2 separate regions of the Homo sapiens genome follow, and region 1 is linked to region 2. The links come from fine-mapping of genetic effects on gene expression. A gene starts in region 2. The other region holds a variant in brackets. All regions are shown on one strand. Distances are between the middles of the regions.

The links. PIP is the estimated chance that this variant, and not a neighbour inherited with it, causes the effect.
Region 1: its variant is fine-mapped to the expression of SIRPB1 in whole blood (TOPMed, PIP above 0.99).

Annotation. Positions count from the first base shown.
Region 1 is chr20:1,562,494-1,578,120 of GRCh38, reverse strand. SIRPB1 (signal regulatory protein beta 1) reads left to right here. Exons shown (of 6, transcript NM_006065.5): 3 at 6,084-6,401; 4 at 6,984-7,316; 5 at 11,854-11,968; 6 at 12,624-15,627. The coding sequence ends at 11,966. Among named protein-coding and RNA genes, the nearest start is that of SIRPD, 13 kb to the right of the region's middle. The variant G/C (reference allele first, on the strand shown) is at 7,670.
Region 2 is chr20:1,612,523-1,628,149 of GRCh38, reverse strand. It overlaps SIRPB1 (signal regulatory protein beta 1), which reads left to right and starts at 8,141. Exons shown (of 6, transcript NM_006065.5): 1 at 8,141-8,281. The coding sequence starts at 8,206.

The DNA.
Region 1 (15,627 bases), 50 kb after region 2:
CATCCCCAGTCTGCGGCTCTACAGCTCTTGTGTTTCCAAAGCTGACCCAGCCCTTTGGTTCCACAGATGAGGGAACTCACAATTTGAGTGACTTGTCCAGGCACAGGGCTGGACCTTGCCTTCTGCCTCCAGAGAATGCTTCCCCCTCAGGGTGGCCAAGTCCCTTCTTTATGCAACAGGCAGTCACTGAGACCCCACTGTGTGCCAGGCTCTGCCCTGGATGCTGCGCAAACAGCAGTGAATGAAACAGCCTAAAGCGCTCCCCCACCAAGCTTACATTCTCTTCCCTTCTAATGAGGAGAAATCCGTCCAGGGCATGGAGAGGGTAAATCGTGGTTGTTTTTTTTTTTAATTTAATCTTCAGAAACACCCCACGGGGAAGATTTCTCGGAGGCACATTCACGGTTGAATCTGATGGCTTGGTGGGAGGAGATGCCAATATGTTTGGCATTTGCTGTGGGTCTATTTGGGAAACCCTTCTGTGATTTGGGGACTGAGTCACAGAGTTACCATGGGCTCCGAGCAGAGCTGCATCATCTCAGAATGTCCCTCACCTCAGGAAAGAGGTCCCACAAGTGGGTGACTTAGGGGTTCCCCATATAAGGTAGCAACAATGCTTATGTGGGGTTTCCTGCCAGAGCCCCAAAAGCCTCGTCTTAACTGCTGAATTCTGGCATGTCAGCACAGGAAGGACCTTCAGACCATCCAGCCCAACCCCCTTTACAGATGGGAGACTGAAGCCAAGACATGACAGGGGCCTTGTCCATGGTCACAGGGCCAGTTAGTGACAGAATTGGAGCCAGAGTCCATATCTGAATCGTGGCAGTCTCCTTCCTTCCCCAGCATTAGACGCTGTCTCCATAGAAGAGCCTGGTGCATCATAGGTGCTAGATAAAAGTTCCCCAAACAGAGCCAGGTGTCAGAGAGCCAGCATTTCTCTTTTCATCAGTTTCCCAAATGTTAAGAATGCACCTCACATTCAGATACTAAAGCTCATTGGTGACTAGAAAACTTCTCCCAAATGTAAGCCCTGTCATTTCATATCGAGATTCCACATCAGGACATAGAGAACTGCTCCAGTTTTTTTACAGCTGAAAAATACTCCAATTTATGGAAATACCAAAATTTATTTTACAGTCTTCTGTTGATGGATATGTAAGTTATTCCCAACATTGAGCTACTACAACAATCATGCAGTGGATGACCTTGTACATGTGTCACCCTACTCAGGTGGGAGATTCCCACTGGAAGTGGTGTTTCTAGGTCAGAGGATAGTGTGTTTTCATATTTGAGAATATTGCCTAATTTCCCTTCTAGATGATGTAGCAATCAGAGATTACAGACTTGAGCTACCATGCCTGGCTAATTTTGTATTTTGTAGAGACAGGGTTTCTCCATGTTGTTCAGGCTGGTCTCGAACTCCCAAACTCAGGTGATCCACCCGCCTCAGCCTCCCAAACTGCTGGGATTACAGGCGTGAGCCACCATGCCTGGCCCCACTTCAAACATTTTTAAGACAGTGGTTTTAACATCTGGCTCTAGCATCAGGGTGGACACAATACATAAGAAAGGTCCTTACAAGACAGAGGAAGGAGATTAATTCTCAGAGAAGGACTTGTGAGGATATAAGCAAGAGGTTAGAGTGATGGGAAGATGTAACTGTGAGAAAGGAATGTGGGCAGCCTCTGGAATTTGGAAAGGCAAAAAAACAGAACCTCCAGAAGACACATAGCTTTACTAACAGCTTTTTAAAAAAATGTGTATATGTAAAGCCTAAAACATGATGCTTTCATGTACATGTATGTACATGAAAATGTACATTGCTCAGTAATGACTGAAATCAGCTCCCCACAACCCTTGAACTTAGACAAGGAAGGTGGCTTTATCCTGATTGTGCAGATAATATTGGCAAAGACACTGAAATGCCCAGGTGGTGCCTCCCCAGCCCAGGCAGCCACAGCCAGTGGTGGCTCAGGTGTGACTCAGATCTGCTCACTCCTAGTGAAGTACTCACTCCTCTTTGCCATGCTCTCGGCCTAAATGATGAGCTACATGAGAAAGGAGGGAGGTGGGGAAGGGGGCCAGAGAGCAGCAACTGTGCCAGAGTCTCCTTATAACCAGTGCTATGAGGGAGAAGCCATTTGCTACCTCCTTTAAAGATGAGGACACTGAAGCTCAGAGAGGAGACCTGACTTGGGAGCAGGTCAGGGAGCCAAGGCTGGAACCCCGCAGCCTGACTCACAGCCTTTGTCTTTGTGACACTCAACTGTGGTTTTTCAAGAGTGGAGAAATGCTCCAACCTTCTCTTTCTAAACTCTTGCATTGTTCAGTTCTACAGCAAAAAGCATTAAAAACAAAACAAGAACCCTGTAGGGGTAGGAGGGCCTGTCTTCACACTCCCATCAGAAAGGCCCTGCGCATGTCTCATGATATGCCAAGCCGGTTCCTAAAGGACAGGTCTCAACACACATGAGGCATTTAGGACTCTTCCCCCATGTTGTGTTGTTTCCTCTTCACTCAGCAGCGTCCAATGAGCAGAGTCGAGCCTCCTGCAGCCCAGCAGAGCACGTATCTGCCCGTTCATGGTGCTGAGGACTAAGGATGAGGAGATGAGGCATTTCCTAGAGAGTGTTTGGGGCCCATGTGAGCAAGAGTTGAGATTCTCCCCTCCGGCTGTCAGGAGCCCACTGTCTTTTGCTTATGGCTGCAGGGTAACCAGGCCTGGGCACCCAGGAGGGAGGCTTCTCCCTAACATTGCATGAAGTCTAGAATCTCAAAGGGACAATTGAGGTGGCAGTCAGTGTTGGAGCTCAAGAAGTTAGAACACTTGCTCTGTTAATGGACATAAGTGCTTGGTGGGACACAGGAAATGCCCACTGGGACACATGGAGAATCGGGAGACAGTGCCTTCATTTTGTTCAGCCACGGCATCTTCATCTGTAGAATAGAGACAATCATGGACTCCTTTAGGAAAGTCGTAAGCGTAAGGTTCTCTCTGTAAATCACCTAGCACACTGTAGGCACCCCCAAAGTGAGGTGTTATTTCAAGATCGTGTGATCTTGGGCCAGTCTTGCCTTCCCTTGAGTCCTCGGTTTCCCCATCGGTGAGATGCTGATTATCATGGCCTATTCTGGGTTCTGTGAGGATTGGAGAGGATGTGCACAGAGCCCCTAATGGTGGTGTCATTCAGGTTATTACTGAGCTTCTGCAGAACTGTCGTTAGGAGAACACAGGCAGTATCCCAGCTGCCTGGGCCTCTTCCCGGCTCTGCCACTTCCTGGCTCTGTGACCTGGGACAAGGTGCTTCACCACCATAGGCCTCGATGTCCTCACCCTTTGATGGTAACACTGACCTCACAGACTGGGCCGAGTCTGAAGGAGTGATATTGTGTAAAATGCTTAGGGCATCAACAAGCACACAGTAAATGCTCAATAAAGGTGAGTTGTGTTAGGGTGAAGCTGTGTGACCTCAGACAGGTCAGGGCATCTCTAGGCCCCAAGTATAAATGGGGTTTGGGTTGGAGTCCAGTGGCTTTCAACCTTGGCTGCTCATTAGAATCATTGGGAAAACTATCAAAAAAAAAGTTTGCAAAGCTGGACCCAGGAACCCCCCTAAAATGCCAATTTAATTGCATCTAATTTGGGCCTGGATATCTAAAGTTCTTAATGGCTCCAGAAGATTCTCATACACAGCCCCCTAGCAAAAGCGGTGCCCCAGGTTTTGGGGCTTTGAGAACAGCTTTTTGGGTCATGGGTGCTTCAAAACAGCCATTCTGGAAACATTCTGGGAGGCCCCAGAAGCCTGAACAGGACCCCTCCCATGCTACTGGCCTCAGGGCCCAAGATAGGAGACTGGGACAAAGCCTGGCTCAGATGCAGCCTCAGGGCTGGGGAACCTTCTGTCTTGAAAACATTTGTATCTAAACACGTGCTGGAGTCCCAGCAAATCCTCACTCCTCAGCCCCAGAAGCCTCCCTCCCTCAGCACTCCCAGATGTCACTGAGGTATCTTTTCCCTCCTTCTTCCAAAATGCTTCCAGCTTCCCCTGTGATCTTACTTGAAAGCCAGTTCGCCAAACATGGTGGTTGCTGCTCCTTTTATCATTTGGGTTTTTTCTGGCAGCTGCGGTGAGTAGGGTTTGAGCCTTTCCTTGGTGTTTGTGTGCCTCTTTGTTCTGTTGCCTAAAGAATAGCTATGCAGCTCCAGAAGCAGTAATGACCAAACCTCATGATTACAGTCACAGGGGTTATTTATTAAGCACCTACTACATGCCAGGCTATGCCCTTGCACTTACCCTCACTCATCTTCCCAGGGTGGGGTTTCTATCTACTTTTGGCCCTTGGCCACCAAGGATCCTCTCAGAGTCTCGCCCTACACAAGGGCTCACATGAGGACCCCCTCTGACAAATAGAAGGAGGATTGAAGTGCTGAGAGGTACAGAGAGAGCAGCCAGCATCAGGCTGCCAAGAAGCCCTCAAAAAATCGGAACTGAAGACAGCCTCTCAGCCTTCTAGGGACACCCATGCTGCTGGTGTCTCAAAGACTTGACATCTTCAAGTGACACCCTCCTTACTGTGCTCTCACATTATTTCACGCATATCAGGGAGCAAGTTAATATTGGCAAAGTCAAACGTATAATATGTGCTTTCTAAGAGGACGGCAGAAGGTTCAAGGTAACAATTAGCAATTTGCAGACACCCTTAAAATTCATCTACATGGAGAAACTGCACTCGTTGTTCTGATTCTCCAATGTGTTTGCTTTCAAGGCCCAGAATAGGTTTCTGTCTGTTGGTGTGGCCTGGGTCTTTGTCTCTTGTAATTAATTAACGATGAAAAAGCTAACCACCTTTGGCTTTCTTAGTACTCAGTGATCCTTGTTTTTCACCCAAACCTGTCCTAACTGAAGATTCAGATTCCCAAAAATTTCCTCTTTTCAAATTTAGGACTTCCAGCAGATTAGAACAACTAACAACAACAGCAAAATGATTGTTAGGAAGGCCAAAGGAAATAGCATTTATCTGAAAGATAAAGAGGTGCAATTTGGGTACACTGAGTCAGTGAAACCCTGAATAGTGTCCCGTATGGCAATACAGGACAGGTTTTTTATAGGGGATTTTCACAAAAGGTTGTTTTTGGAAACAGTTCATTAGCTGGTTGAAAATCCTCAACTGCAAACCCACTCTCATTGGTTATTTCATTAAAGTACTCCAGGTGAAAGAGATCAAAATCCCACGGACCCTGGCTTCAGTTGTTATCCAGGTCTATCTACTGCAACATCCTGTGGCTTGACCTTTAGCAGGTGTGATTCCAATGCTCTTACAAACTCTTGGCTCTACGTTAAAGCTTTATCCTTAATTAATGCCTTTTATTTGACAGAACGAAATATTTGTGAAAAGAAAAATACGGAATGTTTCATATTTTTATAATACCTAAAGAGAGACCTCTGTGTATCTGTAAAGTCTGGGTTAAAGATAGATCTGTGTTTTTTGGGGGAAGCATCTTCTGTGTTTGATCCAGAGCAAAACTGCTTCCATTGCCCCATTGAATCCTGGCGACATCCCAGGAAGTAGAAACGCCGTCCTCCGTCCTCCTGTTTTGCGGATGAGGAGCTGGGGTTGTCAGCCCACCCCTGTCCTGGGCTGAGCAGCCTGGTTGCAGCTCTCACGGTGGTGCCACTTTGCCATTGATCCCTGTATTGGCTTCTATAAATGCCCTCTCTGAGGTTAGTGAGCCTTCCGGGGGAGGACAGCTAGGACCAGTTAATAACATGGAGGGAGACCAATCAGTAATTTTGTTCCTATGCCCAGATTGGTGGAAGTCTCCCTGTGTGGAGAGGACTTTGAACTCAGGCCTGGACTTCCCTCTGGGCCCTGCCCCTACTCACTGTCTGACCATGGCCTGGTTCTCACCTCTAAGAGCTGTTGTGTCCTGATCTGTAAAATGAGAATAAGGACACTGCCTTCACGACATTATTAGAAAGATTAAAAACTAACGTCTCAGAAGGTTCTTAACATGTCAAACGCTTATCATCAGTGATGGTCATCTGAGTCATGTCTCCTGATTATCGATGGTCCTTTTGTAGCCAAACCCTCTGCCCCCGTGGTATCGGGCCCTGCGGTGAGGGCCACACCTGAGCACACAGTGAGCTTCACCTGCGAGTCCCATGGCTTCTCTCCCAGAGACATCACCCTGAAATGGTTCAAAAATGGGAATGAGCTCTCAGACTTCCAGACCAACGTGGACCCCGCAGGAGACAGTGTGTCCTACAGCATCCACAGCACAGCCAGGGTGGTGCTGACCCGTGGGGACGTTCACTCTCAAGTCATCTGCGAGATAGCCCACATCACCTTGCAGGGGGACCCTCTTCGTGGGACTGCCAACTTGTCTGAGGCCATCCGAGGTAGAAGACCCTCACACCCAGCCCAAGCCCACACCTGGCTGCCAAGCCCACTCCCCTCTCCCCAGGCTCCAGAGCTTGAAAGGCCTGGAATCTAATTCCTAACTGTGTTGTCCACCTCCCATGCACCTAGGTGAGCCGGTCACTTACTATCATTTTAATGGCAGCTGTCAGGGGACCAGCAACCATGTGCCAAGCTCTGGGCTACAGAGTTTCATTTATTTCACCAAGAGCAACTACAATTAGTGAGCACCTACTAGGAGCCAAATCACTATGTGCTCGGCGATTTCACTGATTTTGCTACAGTTCTTACATTCCAACTGCATGCCAGGGGTTGTGCTTGTAGATTTCACTCATCCTTAGCCTAGCAGCAGCTAACAGTCCTTGGGCACCTACTGTGCGCCAGGCACTGTGCTTAGTAATTTCACTCATATGCAACGAGTGCCCTCAATGTCTGAGCACCTGCTGCCTGCCTAGCACTGTCCTGGTGATGCCCTCACTGTGTTGGTGGGAGCTACGTTATTTAGCCCTCCCTGTGATCTGTCTGTGCCACAAGATCAGAGCTTCTGCCCTGTGCTGTTTCAGTTCCACCCACCTTGGAGGTTACTCAACAGCCCATGAGGGCAGAGAACCAGGCAAACGTCACCTGCCAGGTGAGCAATTTCTACCCCCGGGGACTACAGCTGACCTGGTTGGAGAATGGAAATGTGTCCCGGACAGAAACAGCTTCGACCCTCATAGAGAACAAGGATGGCACCTACAACTGGATGAGCTGGCTCCTGGTGAACACCTGTGCCCACAGGGACGATGTGGTGCTCACCTGTCAGGTGGAGCATGATGGGCAGCAAGCAGTCAGCAAAAGCTATGCCCTGGAGATCTCAGCGCACCAGAAGGAGCACGGCTCAGATATCACCCATGGTGCGGTTACTTCCCATTTTTAAATTTTGTCTTTTTCTTTAATGTTAAAAGCAATATTCATGCTTGTCATAAAATAAGCTAGAAGTCTATAAATATAAAGTAGAATTTTAACGTCTACATTAAAATCCTACACTCCATGGGTCACCACTACTTAGAAGGTTCAAGGTAACAATTGGCCATTTGTAGACACCCTTAAGCCCCATCTACCAGGAGAAACTGTGCGTCAAGTCTGATGCACAACTTGATAGATATTTTGACATAAATATACATTAAAGGAAAAAAGAGAGAGGGAGGTGATCCGTTTGTTTATGAAGTCCTGTGTCTCGCCTTCTTCTGCATTTCTCGCCAGCACA[G/C]CACCTTGCCTTTTACACTTTCTAACCTCTACCTTGTCCCTATTCTATCCTAAACTTTTCCATCCGCATCTGTGACCTCAGCCACCAGTCTCCAGCATCTGCTCTATAAATTTCAGAAAGACAAGTGAAGTTTAAGCCTGGACAGACCCCCAGGTGACCTGGTCACAGCACAGGCTTCTTTTGTGTTCTGATGGTGATATTTGACCAACAATAATCACAACCACTCTGCACATTTACTATATGCAAATTTCTGTTCATCTCTGATCTCCTTTCCTGCTTCAAACACCCAGTGAGCTTGGAGTTTTACCAAAGGGGAAACCAGGACTTAGGAAGTAATGAGGGATGTTGTTGAAGACTTCTTGTCATTAGACCAGGTTATTGGTCCAAAGTAATGAAGGTAAATCTAGTCCCTGAGGACAGGCTCACTACCAGGCTATAATGGGAATTTGTGCTAATTAGAGAAACTTTCCCTTTCTGCTGCGCTTTGTCCCAAGGACCCAAATTTGGCCAGTGTTCCCCCTCTCTATAACCAAAATATGTCTTATTTCCCTCTCTTTTAATACCAGGAGGGGTCCCTCTACTCCAGTCGAAAGACAATCTTTGAGTGCTTTGACCCGAATACATCCTCCCACATCTCAGGGTCCCACAACTTCCCCATCAGGGCCCAACCCCAGCATAGAAGCCATTAAAGCTGACATTCAACATCCTTTGTGATTCTGCTACTCTTCTAATGATGGCTGGGGCCCAATCTTCTATTCTTTCTGCCCTGAGGCTCCAGGAAATAAGAATAAGGACTCAGGTTCCTTCCAAAACACCCTATGATGTTTGCGTCATCTCCTGGGTCAGTGCTGAGTCACGGATTTGTTCATGTCCCTGCCTGCCAGAAGAGGAAAGACACGAAATAGAAGACAAACAATGTCCCCAATCATCAGAGATGTGTGGAAGGTGCATAGTCACGTCCACTGAAAACTTGCTCACGCATGCACCTGCAGTTGCACATTGAGGGATCATGTGATCAAGGACATTTTTCACAAAACCAGTGTCATTGTCCACTTAAATTTTAAGTGTTCAAATCACTAAATTTCATAAAGTTATTAAAATAATTTCCTCATATCATCTAAAATGGAGCATACATTCACATTTTACCAAATTTTTTAGAACCATTTTCCTGTGTGTTAAATTTGGTTTTAATTTATCTTTAAATGCTTGTGTTTTCCTTTGAAAGATCTGGGCCCCAGGGATATTTTTGGATATTTTATAATCATAGATTCAATGTCGTTAATAGTTTAGGGTTATTCACATTTTTCGTTTCCTATTGAGTGAGCCCTGGTAAGTTGTGTTTTGCATAACTTTTGGTCCATTTCATCTAAGTTGTCATATTTATGTGTGTAGAGTTGTTCATAATATCCTCTCATAACCCTTTTGGTGTCTGCAGGGTCTGCAATGGTATCCCACGTTTCATCCTGATACTAAAAATGTGTCATTTCTCTTTTCTTTTTCATCAGTCATGCTAGAGTTTTTTCCCATTTTATTGGTGTTTTCAAAAGATTGACTCTTTGTTTCAATGGGTTTTTGTATTGTTTTTGTGTTTTCAGTTTCATTAATTATCTGCTCTCTTCTCTCTTTTTTTTTTTAAATTAATTCCTATCTCCTGCTTTCTTTGGGTTTACTTTGCCCTACTTTTTGTAGTTTCTTTAAGTGCGGGATTTATATTTATTGACTTGAGACCTCCTCTTTTCTATGTCCTCCCTTCATCACTTTCTGTGGCTGGGGGCTGGTATTTGGGCATAGAGTCCCTGCTGTTTGGCTGCTGGGCTGTTCCTCAGTCCTCAGGTTCTTACCTCGCTCTTCCACCTTGGAAGTTCTCCTATGCCTGCTCCTCATGATATTTCTTGGGTTCATAGTTGTACTTCTCAAGGAGGCACAGGATGAGATGAGTCTGTACCATCTGGACAAGGTTGAGTCTTTTCTTAGACTTCCAACCACCCACTGGGGCTGAGAGAGGGCTGCCATTTTTGGGTTCTTTCAGTGTGTCTGACATGGCATCCTGGCACATATGCTAAGTCTGGAAATGCATTTTAGGTTGTCTAGGCTGGCAGGCAAACTGCAGGATGCCTTCTGTGACGTGCTGCATCAGTGGCATGGGAGCCTAGTGAGAGACTGTGCCCTAGGGTTAGGTGAGTGTTCCCTTTTGACTCAGCCATTTTGCAGTTTGGCATTCTCTCTTCAAGCAATATTTAGGGCCTGGATTGTGTAGAATTTACTTTTCCTTTTCTGTTTCTTCTTTTGGCTTGGGGAGGATATTTATAGCGACAAGTAGCGATGCCACTGCAATTGTCCCCAGTAACTCTGAAGTCAACTGACAATCTTTGAGTGGTTTGACCCAAATGTCTCCTTCCACATTTCAGGGTCCCACAACTTCCCCATCAGGGCCCTATCCCAGCATAGCAGCCATTGAAACTGAGATTCATGCTCCGCTGTGATTCTGCTACTCTTCTATGATGCCCAGGACCCAATTCTCTATTCCTTCTGCCCTGTGGCTCCAAGAAATAAGAATCTGCAGTGCTGCCAAGAAGTCCTCTGGCTTCCAGCTGAACTTTAACTCATGATGAATCACTCTTAGTTTCTCATTGCCTTCCTCCCAAGAGTTCATGCCCAGCAACAGCTAACACCTTAGTTCTTATAACGACCATTTCCCAATCTGTTTTCAAAAGGCTAATGGCAAGGAATTTCCTTCCTGTGGTAACACTATCCCAGTTTAGTGCCAGTGAAAGTGTTATCAATCGCAACACAACAGCAAGTCACGGCTTCTCCAGTCCCATTCACCACCAGCCCTGGGGTCCTCATTGCTAGCTGATGAGTAATCAGATTCCCAACTTATATTTTAGAGTCTTCTTTCCAGACCACTTCCCAAGGACAGTTTCTCTGGGAGGCCACCTGAGGATGCATAAAGCAATGCAGGAGGCATCCTAGAGTGCTGTCAGGGTCAACATGCCTCAGGAATGAGGAGGCAGGAGTGTAGGAGGAGGGAGGTGCTGAGCCACAGTGCAGGCAGTACAAAGATGCAGCTGCTCTTGCAGAGAGGCAAAAGGCCGGAGGGTCCTGTAGATTTTTTTCAAATTGAGGGGAAGGGCTGGCCCTTCATATTCCCAATGCAGTCTATCTCTCATGTGGGCTGCCCCTTAGAAGGAATAAACTTGGGCAGTGCAGCTCTCCTCAAAGGAGAGAAAGCCCCAGAGAGCCACCCATCTGAGAACTGCCGGCCTGCAACACTCCAACACTCCAGCGGCTATAGATGCTGAGGTCTCCATTCCTTCCTTAAGGACCCACCAGCACCATTTTATTTTAAAAAAAATTTTTTTTAATACCTTTGTTACTTTTAACATCCAAAACCCCTTATTTAAAAAATGCAAACAGTCCCAACATGAGCTTCCGTAGATCTGACTCTCTGTGTCCAACAGAAAGATTTCAGATGACATCTGCACTGGGGTTGAGGTAGGAGAGATGATGTCTGAGGCCCTTCCAAGCCCGAGGCACATTCCCTGACTCACCAGGGAATTTTCCAGCCAGCAGGTTTAATTGGGTCTTGTCCCTGGAGGGCTCCCTGAGATCATGAGAATATGGGGTCCTCTCCCTGCCCCTGGGGCTAAGAAGGGCAGCATGCAACTCTCTCACTCTGAATCCATCCTCACACCACCTGCCCACCCTTTACTAATCATTCTCATGATCCTGGAGTGTTGGACTTGTCTTGGACTCAGGAGTCACCCTTGGGGACATAATGATGGGCTTCCCTAGGTTTGGATCCTACTAATCTCCTGACACTCCCTAAACTCTCTGGCCTCAGTTTCCCCATCAGAATGGAATAATAATCCCTGCCCCATGGGCGTGTGAGGATCAAGTGAGGAACCCAGTTGCCACATATATGAATACCTGAGCACACACTCTCTCCACCTTTTCCCTCCAGGAGGATAAACTGGCAGCCTGGGACAGGGTGAGTGAGAATGAGGAGCCACTTTCCCTGGCCTTTGCTTTCGGCTGGAGTCAGGAAAGCCAGAGCAGGATGCAAGTTCAAAAGCTTCAGAGGATTGATGGGCCCAGGTAGCCTCAGATGGGGTAAGTGGAGGCCCCTGGGATGAGCTCCCAGGTGGCCCCTCTCATGGCTCCTCCTCTTCCCTGATTTCCAGAAGCAGCGCTGGCTCCTACTGCTCCACTCCTCGTAGCTCTCCTCCTGGGCCCCAAGCTGCTACTGGTGGTTGGTGTCTCTGCCATCTACATCTGCTGGAAACAGAAGGCCTGACTGTAAGTTTAGGAGAGGGAGGACTGACCAAGGGCTCCTCCAGAAAGGCAAGGCCAGCAGGAGGGCCCAGCTCACATGCCATGCAGCTTCAGGGTCAGTGGAGTTTACAGAAGGTGACAGGGCTCCCTCAGGATACTCAGGAGTCTCAGGGAACCCTGTATGGGGCTCCCAACCCCCAGGGAGTGTGCAGGAGTTGGGATGGTCAAGGGTATTACAGGAGGTGGGATGCTTCAAGGGGGTTCAAAGTTGTCCCCAGTGGCCTAGGAGTCCCATGGAAAAGGTGGACAGAGGGGTCTAAGTGAGGGCCAACTGAGTGGGTGGTCCCTTGGAGGCCACTGCTGGGACTCCATGGGTTCAAAGTAATCCCCACCGTAGTGTTGAGAATTCCCAGATAGGCTGCTCTGAGGGCTGTTCCTGCTCTGACCTTCTGTGTGCTTGAGTGGAAAGCGGGGAAGAGGGAGCATCAGGACTTGGAAGAAGTGCTGAGCTGGCAGAGTCCTATCTCAGGTCTGCCTGTCCACCCATAACAGGCATCCCAAGAGGAGACCAGCACTAGGGACATATCAGGCTCTCAGGAAACATTTCTTAAATGATGAGCAGATGAATGAATGTGGATGTGTTTTCCAACAGCTCCTTCCTTCCTTCCCTGCCATGTAGGACCCTCAGTCTCTGCTGCCTCCTCCTTTCTTGAGAAGCTCAGCCTGAGAGAAGGAGCTGGCGAGAACCTTCCCCACACTCAGCTCCAAACGCCTCCTCTCCCAGGTCATCTGCCTGCCCACACGCTCCTGTTCCACCTTCACAAGACCATGATGCCCCAAAGCAGTGTCTCTATTCACGGTCCTGAGCAGGGGCCATGGGATTGGGCTCTGGGCACTGACTCATGGCACCTCCCTAGAAGGTGAGAAACACTCCAAATCTAAACACACCAGGACTTCTCCCATCCGTCGCCTTGGGACTGGCCATAAACCACAGACTCTCTCCAGGCTCTCAAGAGTTATCCTGTCTTCTGGATTCCTGCCTACCCCAACTCCCCCAGCCTTGTTGAGGTTCTCTACTGCCTCCTGAATACACATGAACCCCTATACCAATTTTAAGAAAAAAATGATTCTCTTTCCTCTTTGTCCAAGCATCCTATCCCTCAAACCCAAAAAGAAAGAAGCTCTCCCTTCTCTCTCTGTGATGGAGACAGTATTTCTTCTAGTATCCTGCAGCCTTCCCAGTCCTGCTGCTTGTGGTAGAAATGCTGCCACAGCCCAACATTGAGGAGCCCTCGATGACTGCCCTTTACAACTCATATTCAGTTCTGCCTCCAAAATGCATGTGTCCACTTACATGAGATGGTAAATGTTTAACAATGGACTTTCTGAAAGGGAAAAACCAAAAGCTGTTTTGCAGTGCTTGCCAATTTCTCTAGTGTAATAACTCCCAACCTGACCAATTTCACACTGCCAACAGTTAAACAACCAGATTGCAAGATTCCTGAAATTTAACAATTGGTTTTCAGGGCCCAGTCCAAGCCTGCTGCTGGAAACCTCAGAGTTAAATCCCTATTCTCCACACCTCTCACCTCCACCACCCCTCCCTGTCCCAGCCAGCATCATCTCTTTGGGGACCACTCCTCTGGCTTTCATTTTTCAGCCACAGTGATTCTTTGGAAAAGTCAAATCATATCACTTCTCTGCTTCTTCCCCAACACAGCTGCATGGCTCCCGCTCTCCCTCCTTCAAGTCTCTGCTCAATGTCACTTCATTAAAGGCACCTTCTATAAACTACCTTGTATAAAATATTATTTATTTTCTCTATCCCGGCATTCTAATTTCTCTTATCCTAATTAATTTTTCTTTAGCCCTTATTTTGATGAGTATTATGCCGAATACAGGCAGCCCTCACTTTTCATGGCAGTGCAAGATTGCAAAAATGACTGTGCAACCTGAAACCCAGGAAAGCAGTCTCCATAGTCAATCAGAAAAACAATGATCATTCTGTGACCTTTACCATTTTTTGTCAAAATATTAGAAACTCTCACACTCTCAGTTACAAATGTAGAGGACAATGAAAATATAATGAAATAAATATTTATTTGTGCACTACAATTCAAAGCATTAGAAACATTGAGAGTTCAAGTGCTGTTTCTTTGTAAAAATGTATCCAGAGTAGTTGGAAGAGTGCTTGCCTTTTTTTGTATATTTCTAATATGGAGTGATATAGTTTGGCTCTGTGTCTCCATCCAAATCTCATCTTAAATTGTAATCTGCATGTGTTGTGGGATGGGCCTGGTAGGAGGTGACTGAATCATGGGGGCGGACTTCCCCCTTGCTGTTCTTGTGATAGTGAGTTCTCATAAGATCTCAGTGAGTTCTCATGAGATCTGGTTTTTTGAAAGTGTGTGGCAAGTCCCCCTTCGCTCTCTCTCTCTCTCTCCCTCCTGCCACCATGTGAAGAAGGTGCCTGCTTCCTTTTCTCCTTCCACCATGGTTGTAAGTTTCCTGAGGCCTCCCAGTCATGCTTCCTGTTAAGCCTGTGGAACTGTGAGTCCAATTAAACCTCTTTTATTCATAAAATATCCAGTTTCTGGTAGTTCTTTATAGCAGTGTGAGAATGGGCTAATACACGGAGCAAGCATTGTTTCTTTTCATTTGTTTATTTTATTTTTATTTTTTTGAGATGGAGTTTCACCCTTATTGCCCAGGCTGGAGTGCAATGTCGTGATCTTGGCTCACTGCAACCCCCGCCTCCAGGGTTCAAGTGATTCTCCTGCCTCAGCCTCCTGAGTAGCTGGGATTACAGGCATGTACCACCACACCCAGCTAATTTTGTATTTTTAGTAGAGATGGGGTTTCTCCATGTTGATCAGACTAGTCTTGAACTCCCGACCTCAGGTGATCCACCTGTCTTGGCCTCCCAAAGTGCTGGGATTACAGGCATGAGCCACCATGCCTAGCCAGCAAGCATCATTTCTATTATACCTTGGTGTTTTGCCATCTTTCTAAGTTTGGACTAGCTTCCAACATCTTATCCCTTGAATTTTCAATATTGTGGAATCACTCCAGAAGATCCTTTCATGTGAAGTTTTTTGCTGGCATTTCAACCTTTGGGACATCTTCAGCCCTTTTATTACCACTCCTCTCCCATTTGTGGCAGTTTGCGTTTACTACCTCCCTCTGGCTGCCTATCTGAAGTTCCTGCATCAGGGTCTACATTGCCACAGTCAACTATTTGTACTTCTAGAATTCCACTCACATTCAATTTGAACCTCACTTGCAGCATTTTCACTTCTCATTTCTTCACTGCACTTTCATCTTGGTTGCAAAATTCCTCTTTCAATTATTCATTTCTGTAAAATGTCATATGGGCTCATCACTGGGAGGCAAGGAGGCAACCCAACTATAGGATTTGCTGTTTGAGTAGGAGAGCCATAGGGACCAATCACCAACAGACTTTGAAAGACACAACATGACTGGTTACTGATCATGACGAGCTTTTATTACCATGGTGATTTGTGGACTGAAGAGCTAGCCCAGAAGTTTGTACTCTATGCAAATTACATTAAATTTACTATGGCACCTAAATTTTGAGACTTGTGTTGTGGGACTGATGTTACTTAACTAAACTATGGTAAGAGAAATGCATGCATGTCATCACCAAAGTGAGAACTGCCTGT
Region 2 (15,627 bases):
ACATCAAGTGTTTCAGTATTTTATTTCTTTGTAAAAATGTTTCAAGAGTAGTTGGAAGAGTGCTTACCTCCTTCTTGTACACTTCGGATATGGAGCAAACATCCTTTCTATCTGGGTGTTTTATCACCTTCCTCTCTAAGTTTGGATTTGTTTCCAGCACCTTATCATTTGCACTTTCAGTGTCGTGAAATCTCTGCAAAAGTTCCTTTCACGTGAAGATTTTTGCTGTTGTCACATCCTCAGGGACACCTTCGCCCTATTTGTCAGTACCCCATCCCGTATCTGTTAAATTCACCTTCTCTAAGTCCTGCGGGCTGCCTATCTGAAGTTTTTCAAACACTACCAGGGTCTACGTTGCCTCACCAGCTATTCATGCTTCTATAACTCCACTGACATACAATTTGAACTTTATCTCCAGCATTTTCACTGCTCATTTATTCACTGCATTTTCACTGTGGTTGTCCAATCTCTCTTTCAATTATTTGTTTCCCAAAAATGTCACATGGGCTCATCACCAGTTACATGAGGTTGCAGTCTTATGTGAGCCTGTGCCCCTGGCCTGTGGACTTCACAAGTGCCTCTCAGTTTTTTCCCCTATGGTGGGACAGGATGGCCAGAGGGGGCTGGAGTTGGGTGCTTGCCTTCCCCAGGTAGGTTAGGCTCTGATCAAAGCCCAGCAGATTAGGCACTGGTAAAATAGTTTCTCCTGAGAGCTGGGCTTGGTAAGAAGAAAGAATGCTCTGGTGTAGTTCAGAATGATTCGCTTTCCCCTCCACACCCCCCAGGAAGCACAAGTGAATGTTTCTCTCATATTCACTCTGAGCACCTAATCAAGCTCCTGGAGGTAAATCTCACAACAGTGTTGGAGTTCCCTGCGATTGGGTCCTGCTGGAATCTGTTCCTCAGACTGGCCCACACCAAGCCTCTAGCAATTCTTCAATTACAGTGCAGGTTTTCCTACCCTGGCACTGGTTCCCATGGAGGTTTTGGCTTCAGGAAGTTGTAATTCTCTATATCATTTTGTCTAACTTCCAGTTTTGGAGACAATGGTCTGCTCTGTGACCTCATTTCTCTGACAGACCTGAGAAGAGTTGCCATTTCTTATTTGCTCAGCTTGTTACTTGATGTTGGCCCTAGGGACTTTTTGCAGGGGACATCCAGGAGTTTTGGTTCCATCCTTAAAGGCTGCTACAGTAACAAGACCTCAAACTTTCCACACCCAGAATTACAGTCTCTGAAAATCCAAACTCAGTCCTTAGCTACAGGGCCCTGTGGATCAGGGCTGTCAACTGAGGAAGGGCCAAGGGAACCCTGGCATGAAGTGAGTGCCCCTGGGACAGAGAGCAGGCCCAGAGCAGTCAAACTGTCTCCACTACTGTCCAAGGCTCCCAGGCGTGGGAACCCCAAGGTGGATATCAGCAACTTCCCAGGGGTGGCAACTCTGCCTGCTTCCTCTTTTACTATGAGACCATGCCAGTCTCGTGGCCTTTTCCTTCCACAGCAAATTCCCTCCTCAGATATCATGGCAGGTGGGGCTTCTCCTTCCCTGCAGAGCTCAGAGGCTGGGGTCTCTCCGTGATAAACTTTCAACAGAGCAGGCAATGACCATACCTGTCTTCCAGCCCACCTGGACAACCCTTGCCTCTTTATGCTATTGGGACTCACAGGTGAGAGCAGCCTGTTCTACACAGGTGTATTTATATGTAAGTCTCCTCACCCTCTCAGCCCATCTCACCCGTATCTATGGATTTCCATTTGGGAACATTTTCTTCTCTCCCATCCCAGCAGGAGACAAGATTTGGAGTACACTTTCCGTGAGCATCTGTGCAGACTCTTACCGGGATTTGCCTTTCTTTAGTCACAGTGATTTCCCGAGGTCATGCTTGTACCATGACCCAGGTGCTAGTAATGACTTCGTGATTATAGGGCTAGACACGTGACCCACACTCATCATGTGGTGGTATCTGCACATCCCCCAGCCATTGGCCAGGGTTGTCGCACTGCATCGTAAATCCTCGAGGACAGAGAGTCTGTTTTTTAAAGGTATTACTATTGCCAAAACACCACCTAATAACAATAACATCTAACTTTTGGAGCACAATCAGCAATTATTAAGGAATTTACATATATTAATCCATTTTATGACCATAACAAACCTCTGAAGTTGATACGATTACTTCCATTTTATATTTGAGAGAACTCAAGAAACAGAGATGTTAAACAGACTCCCCTGGGTCACACAGCTAGAACTGATAGAACTAAATTCAAATCTAGAAGTTCTGATTCCTAAGCCCACAAACTTAATCTTTGCTCTCCTCAAACATCCACTGACTCCTCACTTGTCCCACAGCCTTATCTCATTATCTGCACCTTCTGTCATGAGTGCAGGGCTAAACTTGGCAGAAAGAGAATTTTAGCTCATGGTTCCCCAGGCTCCTGGTTTTCTCAGACATCCAGGCTGTATCTGTACTGCACAAAGTCAACCTAAATTTGAAACTCAATTCTCCACATGATTTCCACAAAATTTTTCACTCAAATTGTATCTATGCATCTAATAGATCTTCATTGAAGGATTGGAGTTCACAGGAAGTCATCTTGCTGCTTTAAGTAGAGATTCTGCCAGAGCATGGAAATTATTCTATCAATATTTGAGTCATATATTTCAAATCATAATTTTTGGAGGCATAATATTTTGTGACTCATCTTTCAGGTTAGTTGTTACTTTCATAAAAGGAAACATTTCTCTTTCAACCATTTGTGCTTTTTACCTTAAACTATGCTTCTTAAGATAGTATTTCTATTGCAACATTTTCAAACTATTTTGTGTTACAGCTTTTACCATTGCTATATTTATACCTATTGTCATTAATTTGTTTGGGTGTGTCTCTTGGTGCTGGGTTCTAGGAGATTGTCCCTGCATGAAGAGCCAGCTCACTAACTTACTACTCACTTATGTACAGTCAGCTACTCAATTGATACGGTTTGGATCTGTTTCCCCACCAAAATCTCATGTCAAATTGTAATCCCCAGTGTTGGAGATGGGGACTGCTAGGAAGTGATTGAATCGTGGGGGCAGGTTTCCCTCTTGGTGCTGTTCTTGTAATAGTGACTGAGTTCTGGTGAAATCTGGTTGTTTAAAAGTGTGTAACACCTCCACCCTCTCTATCCCTCATGCTCCAGCCATGTGAGATAAGTCTCCATCCACTTTGCCTTCCACCCTTACTGTAAGTTTCCTGAGGCCTCCCAGAAGCCAGGTGTATGCAAGCATCATGCTTCCTATACAGCCTGTGGAACCAGGAGCCAATTAAACCTCTTTTCTTTATAAATTACCCAGTCTCAGGTATTTCTTTTAGCTGTGTGAGAATGAACTAATACAAAAAATTGATACTGACGAGTGGGGCATTGCTATAAAGTTACCTGCAAATGTGGAAGTGGCTTTGGAACTGGATAATGAGCAGAGGTTGAATGAGTGTAGAGGGCTTAGAAGACAGGAAGATGAGCGAAAGCTGGGAATTTCCCAGAGATTTCTTGAATTGTGACCAAAATGCTGAGAGTAATATGGACCATGAAGTCCAGGCTGAGGAGGTCTCAGATGGAAATGATGAACTTCCTGGCAACTGGAGCAAAGATCGGTTTTGTTAAGTCTTGGCAAAGAGCTTGGAGGCACTGTGCCCCTGCCCTGGGGTTCTGTGAAACATTGAACTTGGGAGTGACAATTTAGAGTATCTGCTGGAAGAAATTTCTAAGCAGCAAAGCATTCAAGAAATTTCCTGAGGCGGGGCACAGTGGCTCACGTCTGTAATCCCAGCACTTTGGGAGGCCGAGGCGGGCAGATCACGAGGTTAGGAGTTTGAGACCAGTCTGGCCAATATGGTGAAACCCCATCACTACTAAAAATACAAAAAAAAAAAAAAAATTAGCCAGGTGTGGTGGTGCATGGCACACACCTGTAGTCCCAGCTATTTAGCAGGCTGAGGCAGGAGACTCACTTGAACCCGGGAGATGGAGGTTGCAGTAAGCCAAGATTGCACCACTGCACTCCAGCCTGGGTGACAGAGTAAGACTTTATATCACACACAAAAAAGAAGAAGCAGTTACCTCGCTGCTTCTAACAGCCTAATTCATATGCGTAAGCACAGAGATGACTTGAAACTGGAACTTATATTTAAAAGGGAAGCAGAGCATAAAAGCTTGGAAAATTTGCAGCCTGGACATGTGGTAGAAAAGAAAGGCCCATTTTCAGGCAACGAATTCAAGCAGGCTGTGAACTTTGCATGAGTAAAAAGAAGCCAAATGCTAATATTGAAAACACTGGGAAAAGCCTTCAAAGGCATTTCAGAGACCATCTCTTTACAGGCACAGAGGTCTAAGAGGGAAGAATGGTTTTGAGAGCCAGAACCAGGGCCTGCTGCCGTGTGCGGCCTTCGGACACGGCCCACTGCACCGCATTCACTCCAGCTCCGGTCTTGGCTCGAAGGGGCTCGAGTATATCTCGGCTGCTGCTTCAGAGGGTGCCAGCCATAAGCCCTGGTGGCTCCATGTGGTGTGAATTCTGCAGGTATGCAGAGTACAAGAGCTGAGGATTGGGAGCCTCTGCCTAGATGTCAGAGGATATATGGAAAAGTCTAGATGTCCAGGCAGAAGCCGGAGCCCTCATGAAGAACCTCTACTAGGGCAGTGCAGAAGGGAAATGTGGGGTTGGAGCCCCCACACAATTCCCACTGGGGCATTGCCTAGTGGAGCTGTGAGAAGAGGGCCACCTTCCTCCAGACCAAAGATTGATAGATCCACTAGCAGCTTGCACCATGTGCGGGGAAAAGCTGCAGGCATTCAACACCAAGTATGAGAAGAACCGTGGAATTTGAATTTTGCAAAGGCACAGAGGTGGAGCTGCTCAGGTTTTGGGAGTGCACCCCTTCCACCAGTGTGCCCTGGATGTGAGACATGGAGTCAAAGGAGATAATTTTGGAGCTTTAATGGCTGCCCTGCTGGGTTTCAGATTGCATTGCATAGGCCTGTATTCCCTTTCTTTTGGGCAATGTATCTCTTTTGAAATGGGAGTATTCCCATTCAGATGGCTAAAGCCAATGCCTATACCCCATTGTATCTTGGAAGTAACTGACTTATTTTTAATTTTACAGGCTTATAGGTGGAAGGCACTTGCCTTGTCTCAGATAAGACTTTGGACTTTTGACTTAATACTGAAATGAGTTAAGACTTTGGGGGACTTCTGGGAAGGTATGATTGTATTTGCAATGTGATAAGGACATAATATTTGAAAGTGGGCAGGAGAAAATGATAAGGTTTAGATCTGTGCCACCACCAAAATCTCATGTTGAATTGTAACCCCCAGTGTTGGAGGTAGGACCTGGTGGAAGTTGGCTGGGTCTTTGGGTCAGATTTCCCTCTTGGTGCTGTTCTCATGATGATGAGTGAGTTCTCATGAGATCTGGTGGTTTTAAAATGTGTGGCACCTCCCTACTCTCTCTCTCCCTCCTGCTCTGGTCGTGTAAATATGCTCACTTCCCCTTCACCTTTTGCCATTTTTGTAAGTTTCCTGTGACCTCCCAGAAGCTGATACCAGCATTATGCTTCCTGTAAAGCCTCTGAAACCATCAGCCAATTAAACCTCTTCTCTTTATCAATTACCCAGTCTCAGTCTCAGGTATTTCATTATAACAATTATAGAAAGAACAGATTAATACATCCACCTATTTGTTTTTTAAACAATTTAGCACTAATTATATTTTTTCAAAATTCTTCTTTTTATTACTTTTCTCAGATACCTGTTGTTACTGCACACCTACCTATTCTTGTTTCACACGTGACTTTGTTTTATGGATTTACTTTCTTTTCATTATCTCTATAAGGTTACTAAATATGTTAATGTTAAAAATATTTTCACATTTTATATTTTTATTTTCTGAGGTATTATTTTCTAAGATGTTATTTTCATTGCTGTTTTTGTTTTTTAGTTATTGTTTTTGAATTTATTATGATGTCGCTTTTCCCCAAATCTTTAGTGATTACTGCTTTCACTGTAATCTTTACAGGAATAATGCCCTGAGTGATCATGGGCTGTCAGCACTTTATGGAACATGGCACCTATCCCAACCTTGCTGTGGAGGCTGCGCCTAATTGACGTTATGGCTTCTTCTCTGCTTCCTTCCTGAGAGATATCTCTCCCTTCTTATGAGAGGTGTCATAGTGAAGGCCATGGAGTGTGACAACCTGTGTTCTAGTTCTAAAAGCTGGGTGATGTTGAACAAATGTATTATTGCCTGCGTGCCTCAAGTTTCCTCACCTATAAAAAAAGGTTAATGGTAGTGCTAATTTCATGGGACCAGAGTGATGAATTAATGAGGTAACTGACAAAATGCTTGGCACAGTACCTGGAGCACAGGACATCTGCAGTAAACACAGCAGCTACTACCCTTCATGTCATATAGAGACTAGTTTCTTGTTTTAAAGTGTAATTTGGCATCGATTAACATGATTTTATCATTTTTATATTCATTTCTGTGAGTGTGGAGCAGGAGGTGATGATTTCACCCTCTGTGCATCTGCCACATTGAAAAAGAAATTTGCATGGAAATGTGATGACTTTTACAATTTCATTTGACAATTACTCATGATAGGTGAAGGATTGCAAGCCCAGCATGGGAAAGAGAGGTTTCCAGACAGGTCTTTCTTAGTCACAGATGATGGAGGAGAAACCATTTCTCCTACCAAGGAAATTTTTCTAAAGCACAAGTATGTCAGGGAAGCAGTGAACTCACCCTGTACACAAATGTAATTATAGCCACAATTTTTTGGTTATAATTAAATATGAATCAAACCTTCTGTATGGCTTATATTACTCTTACCATATCACTACAAGGTGCATGTTATAACTTCCATTTACATGTAATTAAGTTAAGGCTTAGAGAAGTCAAGTGTCTTGTTGAAAGTCACACAGCTGGAGATTGTAAGAAAAGGAATTCATCTACAGATTGACAAAAAGCAGGGTGAAGAGGATCCAGAGGGAGAAATTGATCTCAGAGTGTCAGAGGTAGACCAAGTACACCATAAAAGCTGGGTTCCAGAAGTCCGGGGAACATGGGAGAAGGCCACTGGTGGGAAACTCAGCATGCAGTAGAAATCCATTTAAAAGCAATATTTGAGTTCCCTCTCTTCACCTGGCACCATGAGTATCAATAATAACCTACTGAATCTCAGGGATGTATAGTCATTATCTCTTTTGATGTTCACTAAAACATGGCAGTGAGACTTATTATCCCAAGGTTAGAAGGCAAAACTGAACCTAGGCAGGCCCAGTAACTTCCCCAACTCCTTAGCACATCTTCTTAGGGTATTTATTCTCCCTCCCTCCTCAGTTCCCATCTGAAGACAGTGATGAATGGAATAGGTGTTCTATGTGCAGAGCAAAGAGTATTGAAATCGATGTGACTGCTCCAGGAATCTGCCCTCCATATTCTCCCCCATAATAAACATATCCCCTTTCCATAACCCATAATCCCCACCTCACCTCACAAAGCAGATCCTTATTACCCTAAGCCCACTTCCTCTCCTGGAAGAAGTCAGGAAATAATTCCTTCTGCTGGGTGCAGGCATATGAAAGTGCTAACGGCCACATGAGACTGAATTTGGGCTAAGTTTTGCCATTTATATTTATAAAAGTTCGGAATAGGGAACCATTTCAAGAGCAGACCTGTTCCTCTCCAACACTGAGCAGGTCCAGTGATCCCTCATCCTGCCCCAACTGAGTAGCACTTGGTTGAGGCTGTTGTAGAATGAGACCACAAGCCAACCACATCCTGAGGTCTTGAGATGGAAAGTTTAGGAAACATTTCATAACCACAGGTCCTTCCTGGCTTAAGAGCACCAAATGGCAAATCACCAAGAAGACATAAAGATGGGGTTAGGAGTCATGGAAGGAGTTAAGACCTCAGGTGGGAAGGAAGCATTATTTCTGCTAAGCCTGTCTGATTCTCCTGAAATGGGGCATGCATAACTGCTTGCATTGTAGCTGCTTGCTGTTCCTGATTTCTGTTTCACAATCCAGAAGCAGGTTACTGCTTCACTCCATCGCAGCCACTTCCTCTTGAACTAAGGGAGGCAGGGCTTGTCTTCTCTCCTCAGAGCAGAGTCTGCGATCTTCCCAGCACAGACGTTTGGACAGAGCAGGCTCCTAAGGTCTCCAGAATGCCCGTGCCAGCCTCCTGGCCCCACCTTCCTAGTCCTTTCCTGCTGATGACGCTACTGCTGGGGAGACTCACAGGTGAGCACTGCCTTCGGTTAAAATCTTTTTTCCTGCCCACTGAGCCATGGCCTGTCCCTGGACTTTCAGGGATTCCGGACAATGACAAGTGCTGCCAAGAAAGGCCAAGGATTAGGCTTTGACTGAGAGCAGAAAATCAGGGAGCTGAGCACTTTCTCTGTGGATCTGCAGCTGGCTACCAGAGGCATTGAACCACAGGACGATTCAACCACCACAACAACAATTACTTACATTTTGATAATATTTCAATTGAAAAAGCAGAGAAGAATCATTATCTAAATCCTCACCAGTCCTGAGGCCCTAGGGCCAAGTGACATGCCCAAGTCCACAGAGTAAGCTCAGAGACACCCTAACAGGGTTATGTGGCTCTAGGCCCAGCCCTCTCTCTTCACCAAACTGAGGATGTGAAGTCTGTAATAGTGCTCACTTGAGTAGGGCAGTGGTGTGGTGTATCCTGGGAGTGTTCAGCCACCATCCTCCCTAAGGGTGCTCCTCACTTTGTCCTCTGTTCCCCCATGCTCCTCCCTCCCCTGTGACCTGATTCTTACCACCCATTTCTCTGTGGCCTCTTCCTCTTTAAGAAGTTCCACATTTGCTGCTTACTGGGTCCTATATTCCTTTCCTAGGGCTTCCATAACAAAGAACTGCAGGCTGGGTGGCTGAAACTACAGATATTTACTTCCTTGCAGTTAAGGAGGCTGAAGTCCAAGATCAAGGTGTCAGCAGGGTTAGTTTCTACTGAAGTCTCTCTCCTTGGCTTATACAGGGCCATTTTCTCTCTGTGTCTTAAACACATGATCTTCCTCTGTGTGTGTCTGTGTCCTCATCTCCTCTTCTTATGAGAATATCAGTCTTGTTGTATTAAGGCCCACCCCAATGACCTCATTTAACTAAATTACTTCTTAAAGACCCTGTCTCCCAAACTGTAACGTTCAGAGGTGCTGGGGATTAGAGCTTCAACACATGCATTTTGTGGGACACATTCAGCCCATAACAGGTACTACAACCTCCTTTGGTTCTCTTAAATTTCCCATGGATAATTTCTTTCCCCTTCCCAAGACAGGCAGGATTGGAGGGCCTTTCCTGGTGCAGCCTGGGAGAACCCTGCTCACAGCTCCCAGACAAGTTACCTGTCCTGATCCCTTCTCAGGCCATGGAGCTGACCCCAGAACCACAGGGCTGGGCACAGCAGCCTCTCAATTCCCCACTGGGCCCTGCTGTGATGTCACCTCACAGGCCCTAGAGGGCAGGGGTCTCACTTTTCAAATTATTTTTCTCACACATACACTGTACCCAAATGACAGCAGTAAGAGTTTAACAATTGAGCTCTTCCTACCATGTAGACACAGTTATTAGCATTTTGCCTGTTTTAGCTCCACTAATCCTCACAACATCCCTGTGTGAAAGCTGCAACTATTATCCCCTATTTCCAAACAAAGACTCAGGCAGAGGGAGGAACTTGTCCATTCATTGTCCCCTACCTCAGTCAGTGGAGCAGCTGAGATTCAAGTCCAGGTCGACCGGCTCCAAAGTTCATTCTTTTAGTCGTGTTATGCTACTAGCAGAAATATTAGAAAATGCAGGGAAGTAAACATAGAATTAATTATTGCCTACCACACTTGTTAGCAACAACCAGAGTTACAACTGTGATGTATGTACTTCTAAATTTGTTATTAATGTGTTGGATGCTTTCTATGGGCCACATATTTTACTTTCTATGGGCCAGATATTTTAATGAGATTTTAACGTGTGTTGTAATTTTATTTAATACACAAAACAAACTTATATACTATCACAATAGGTCACACTTTGATATATATTTGTGAATGTATATGTGTGTGTCTATATATACATATATATGTGTGTGTGTGTATATATACATATATGTGTGTGTATATATATTTGCAAATGTGTGTATACATATGTGTGTATACATATGTATATGCATGTATGCATATAAGTAAGTGTACATGCACACACAGGAGATTTCATTTTTTATCATTGTTTCTCCAAGTTTCTAATTTCAATGAAACTTTTAACAAAATATTTTATTTTTATTTGACAGAACTGTATATACTTATCATGTATACCATATTAATGAAATATGTGTACATTGCAGAATGCCTAATTTGAGCTAATTAACATATGACCTACCTTGTATATGTATCATTTCTGTGGTGAGATCTCTCAAAATCTGCTTTCAACAATTTTTGAGGTTACGAATTGTGTTATGAACTCTAGACCCCATATTGTACAATAGATTTGTGGAACTAATTTCTCCTAACTAAACTGAAATTTTGTATCCTTTGACCAATATCTCTCCAAATGCACCCCCTGCCTAGTGCCTGGTAACCAATATTCTACTATCTACTTCTATGAGTTCAACTTTTTAAAATTCCACATATGAGAGACATTATGCAGTATTGTCTTTCTGTGCCTGGCTTATTTTACTTAGCATAATATCTTCCAGGATCATTTATATTGTTGGAAATGATAGGATTTCCTTCTTTGGTCAGGCTGATTAGAATTCCATTGTGTATACCAATTTCCTTTCTCCATTTATCTGCTGATGGACATCTAGGTTAATTTAATATCCTGGCTATTGTAAATAATGCTGCAATGGACATGGGAGCACAGATATCTCTGTGACATGCTTATGTCATTTCCTTTGGATGTATGCCCAATAGTGAGATTGCCAGATCATATGATAGTTCTATTTTTAATTTTTTGAGGAGCCTCCATACTGTTTTTGCTAATGGCTCTACTAATTTACATTCCCACTAACTATGTGCAAGAATTCCCTTTTCTCCACATCCTCTCCAAAACTAGTTATCATCTTTTTTATAGTAGCCATTCTAACAAGTGTGAGATGATAGCTCACTGTGGTTTTAATTTGCATTTACCAGATGAATAGTAAGGCTGAGTATTTTTATAGGTCTGATGGCCATTTTAATGTCTTCTTTTGAGAAATGGGTTTTAAGATCTTTGGCCCATATTTTAGTTGGGTTGTTTTCTTAATATTGAGTTGTTTCACTTCCTTATATATTTTGTATATTGACTTTTCATTAGATGCATGGCTAGCAAATATCTTCTTCCATTCTGCTGGTTGTCTTTTCACTCTGTTGATTGTTTCCTTGGCTGTGTAGAAGCTTTTTAGTTTGTTGTAATGCCGTTTGTCTATTTTTCTTTTGTTGCCTGTGCTTTGGGACTCATATCTGAAAATTCATTGCCCACACCAATGTCATGGCACTTTTCTTCCAGTACTTTTACACTTTTAGATCCTACACTTAAGTCTTTAATACATTTTGAATTGATTTTTGTGTGTCATGTGAGAGGAAGGTCTAATTTTATTCCTCTACAGATGGATATCCAGGTTTCCCAATGCCACTTTTTGAAGAGACTGACCTTTCCCAATTGTGTCTGCTTGACATTTTTGTCAAAGGTCAATTGAGTGTAAATGTGTGCGTTTATATCTGGGCTCTCTGGTCTGATCCATTTGTCTATGTGTCTATTTTTATGCCAGTGCCATGCTGTTTTGATTACTATGGCACGGTAGTCAAGTTTGAAATCAGGCAATGTGATGCCTCCAGTCTTTTTGCTCAAGATTGCCTTTTCTACTCACAATTTTCTATGACTAATGTGAACTTGAGGATTGTTTTGTCCATTTCTGAGGAAAATGTCATTGAAATATTACTAATAATGAATTGAATCTGTAGATCTCTTTGGGTAGTATGTATATTTTTAACAAAAGTAATTATCTAATCCACAAGCATGGATATCTTTCCATTATTTTTGTTCTATTTATTTTTCATCAGGGTGTTATAGCTTTTTTTGTGGAGGTCTTTCATGTCCTTGAGTAAATCTGTTTCTAGCTATTTTAGCTTTTTTGGTAGTAATTGTAAATGCGATTACCTTACTGATTTCTTTTTTCAATAAAGTCATAATAATGACAGTAATCAATATACATGATAAATAGGTAAATAAAATCATAAATTAGCCACTGATAAGGGAAAATAAAATAAGGTATGTGTATATAACTTTTATCTTATAGAAATTTTCATATATTCCTATTATTGATGGTATTTTCACAAAAAGATGTCCACATTTCTCAAATGCTGTTTTGCATCAAATGAGATAATCATGTGTTTCTTCTCTTTCTTCTATAAATATGGTGTATTACATTCTTTGTCATTTGTATATTGAAACATTCTTGTGTTCCAGGAATAAATACCACTTGCTCATTGTGTATATTCCTTCTAATATGCTGCTGAACTCAGCTAGTGTTTGGTTGAGGATTATTGCATCAACAAACCGAGTAATAATAATGCCAACTGTTAACAGAAAGGTGTGCAGCTCTACCTGGCAGTGATCTTAGTTTTGTATTTTCATGGAAGTTTAGATTCCAGTGGGCTCCATTTCAGATAAGCAGAGTCTGGCTTTGGGACAATTTATGGTTAAAGAGTACGACAGGAAAGTATGCTCCCCAGATCTGGACTCTAAGCCAGGAGAGCCCAATAGATAACCAGAAATTTCTTGTTGTAATGGAGTATAGCAAAAGCTGAGAGGGGCATTATATTTGCATCAAAGGCCCTGGGGAAAATGTCTGGCCATCATGAGTGGTTTAGAGACTCCAAGAGGCATGAAAGACACAGCCAAAGTCTCTACAGAGAAGAGATACTTTTATTTGTTAATTCATTTAAAGACACTAACAGGAGGGCCTGTTGATTTTAATTTGTAAGTAAAATTTGTAAATGAAGAATATGTTGCCACAAGCACCCCAGAAAAAACTTACTGATGCTGGATTATGTGACATTAATATGCATATCACATGAATCTTCTTTGAAGAGGTGTTACCAATGTTATATCATCTTGTGCTCTTGAAGAAAGGCAGATGTCATTATTGATATTGGAACAGGATCCTCGCTTCAGGATGGAGAGCCATGGCAGCACTCCAAAAGGCAACACAAAGCTGTACATAGCATAGCACAAGAAAGTCATCAGGGTGAAAAGCCTTCTCAAATTGTGGAGCCAATCAGAGTAGCAAATCAGTAAGTCATGAGTCAAAGGCATTCCCTAGGAACTTTCCACCTGAGTTTAGAATGATCCCATCCTCATTGCCATTACTATTGAAAATGTTAGAGTGATTCCTGCTGGTTGAATTTTGAGGATCACTCTAACATGGCCATGAAAAGTTCATATGAAGAGGCATACTCACAGTTCCTAGAGAAGGAAGTAGGGCAGGCCATGCAGGAAGCCATGTGGGAGGAGCTCCCAAGGAGCAGGCTCAATCAAGCAGATGGGTAGGCAAGAGAGATGGGATCCCTGGGCAAGTGCCTTTACTGGGAGTCAAGGTGGAGGACACAAGCAAAAACCATGATGGGTTTTACTAGGGTGTTTCAATGTCACTAGGTCACAGTAGAGGAGGACAAGAAGAGGAATTGTGGCAGGGACCAGCTTTAAAATACTGGTTACCTGGTCACCTGGGCAGGGTGCTCACAGCTTGTTTGTGGGATATTGAAGCATGATTTTTAAAACATGTACACATAACTGGATATCTTTATTTCTTCATACAACTTTGAGTTGCCATGTAGCATCCTTTCATTTCCACCTGAAGCACTCCCTTTAGCATTTCTTGTAGGCAAGGTTTAATGGTCATGAACTCTGTTAGCTTTTGTTTATCTGAGAATATCGTAATTTCTCCCTTGTATTTGAAGGACACTTTGCCAGGTATAGAATTCATGATTGACATATTTTTCCTCTTTCAACATTTTGAACTTACCATCCCTCTATCTTCTGGCCTTCAGTGCTTTGTATAAGAGCTGAGCTGAAAATCTTATTGAGGGTCTCTTTTATGTAAGGAATCACTTCTGTCTTGCTGCTTTAAGGATTCTCTCTTTGACTTTAGTTTTCAACAGTTGGGTTATAATGTGTCTTAGTGTGGGTCTCTGAGTTTATTTTTGAGTTCAACTTGCATTTCTTCTGTGTCTTAATAGGTAGATTCCTGTATTTTATCTAGTCTGTGAAGGTTTTTGTCCACTATGTCTTCAAATAATCTTCTATTCCTTTCTCTCTTTCTCTTTTTTCCCCCTGGAACTCCAGTAAGGTGTATGTTGATACATTTGATAACGTCTCACAATTCCCTTAGATTCTGTGCTCTATACTTTATTCTATTTTCCACCAATACCTCAGTCTCAATAATTTCAATTATACCATCTTCCAGTTTTCTGATTATTCTTCCACCTGCTTATACCCACTGGGGGACCCCTCTAGTGAACTTTTAGTTATTGTACTTTCAATTCCTAAGTTTCTGTTTGATTTCTTCCTATAATTTCTCTTTCTTTACATTCTCATTTTGTTAAGACATTTATATTCCTTTAGTTCTTGGTCCGTTATTTCCTTTACCTCTCAGCATTTTTAAGGCAGTGATTTTAATATCTGGGTCTAGTATCAGGGTGGAGCTAATACATCACAAGTGTGCTTATAAGAAGGAGGAAGGAGATTAATTCTTGGAGAATGACGTTGAAACATCCCTGTATTCCAGGATGTTTGCATGTGAAGATGCAAGAGGTTAGAGTGGTGGGAAGATGTAACTGTGAGAAAGGAATGTGAGAAAACTCTAGAATTTGAAAAGGCAAAAAACAGAGCCTCCAGAAGACACATAGCTCTGCTGAAAGCTCTTTAAAAATTGTGGAAATTGAAGGTGTAAAACATGATGCTTTCATATACGTACACATATACATATACGTAGTGAAATGATTATTAAAGTTAAGCAAATGGACACATCCATCATCTCCCATAGTTATGCTGCATGTGTTGTATGTCAACAGCACCTAAAATGTGCTTTTTAAGCAAAAATACAGAATTCAATACAACATTATTAACTAGAATCCTCAGATTGCACATTCAATCTCTGGACTTCTTCGTCAGACTTACTGCAATTTTATACCTTTTGACCTCCCCATCACCTCCCCTAAGTTCACCCCTAGTCACCACTGTTTTATTCTCTATCTTTGTGTATTTGACGTTCTTCATTTCTTCTTCATTGTACCCCAGTAACACTATTTTGGACTTCTAACCCCCAGAACTATAAAATGTTACATTTGTTTTAAGACACTAAGTTTTGGTAATTTGTCACATCAGCATTAGGAAACTTATGTAATGTGTTTATGCTATGGGTGAAATATTACAAGGGGCTTAAAACAATGTTGTATTTCTACTGGAAGCTACATATTCAGTGTGGATTGGCAGTTCTGCATGCAACGGTCATTCACGCATCCAGGCAATGGAGCAGGCCCCATTAGAGCCTTGTGGGTCTCAGGAAGGGAGAAATTGATCCACAGAGGCTC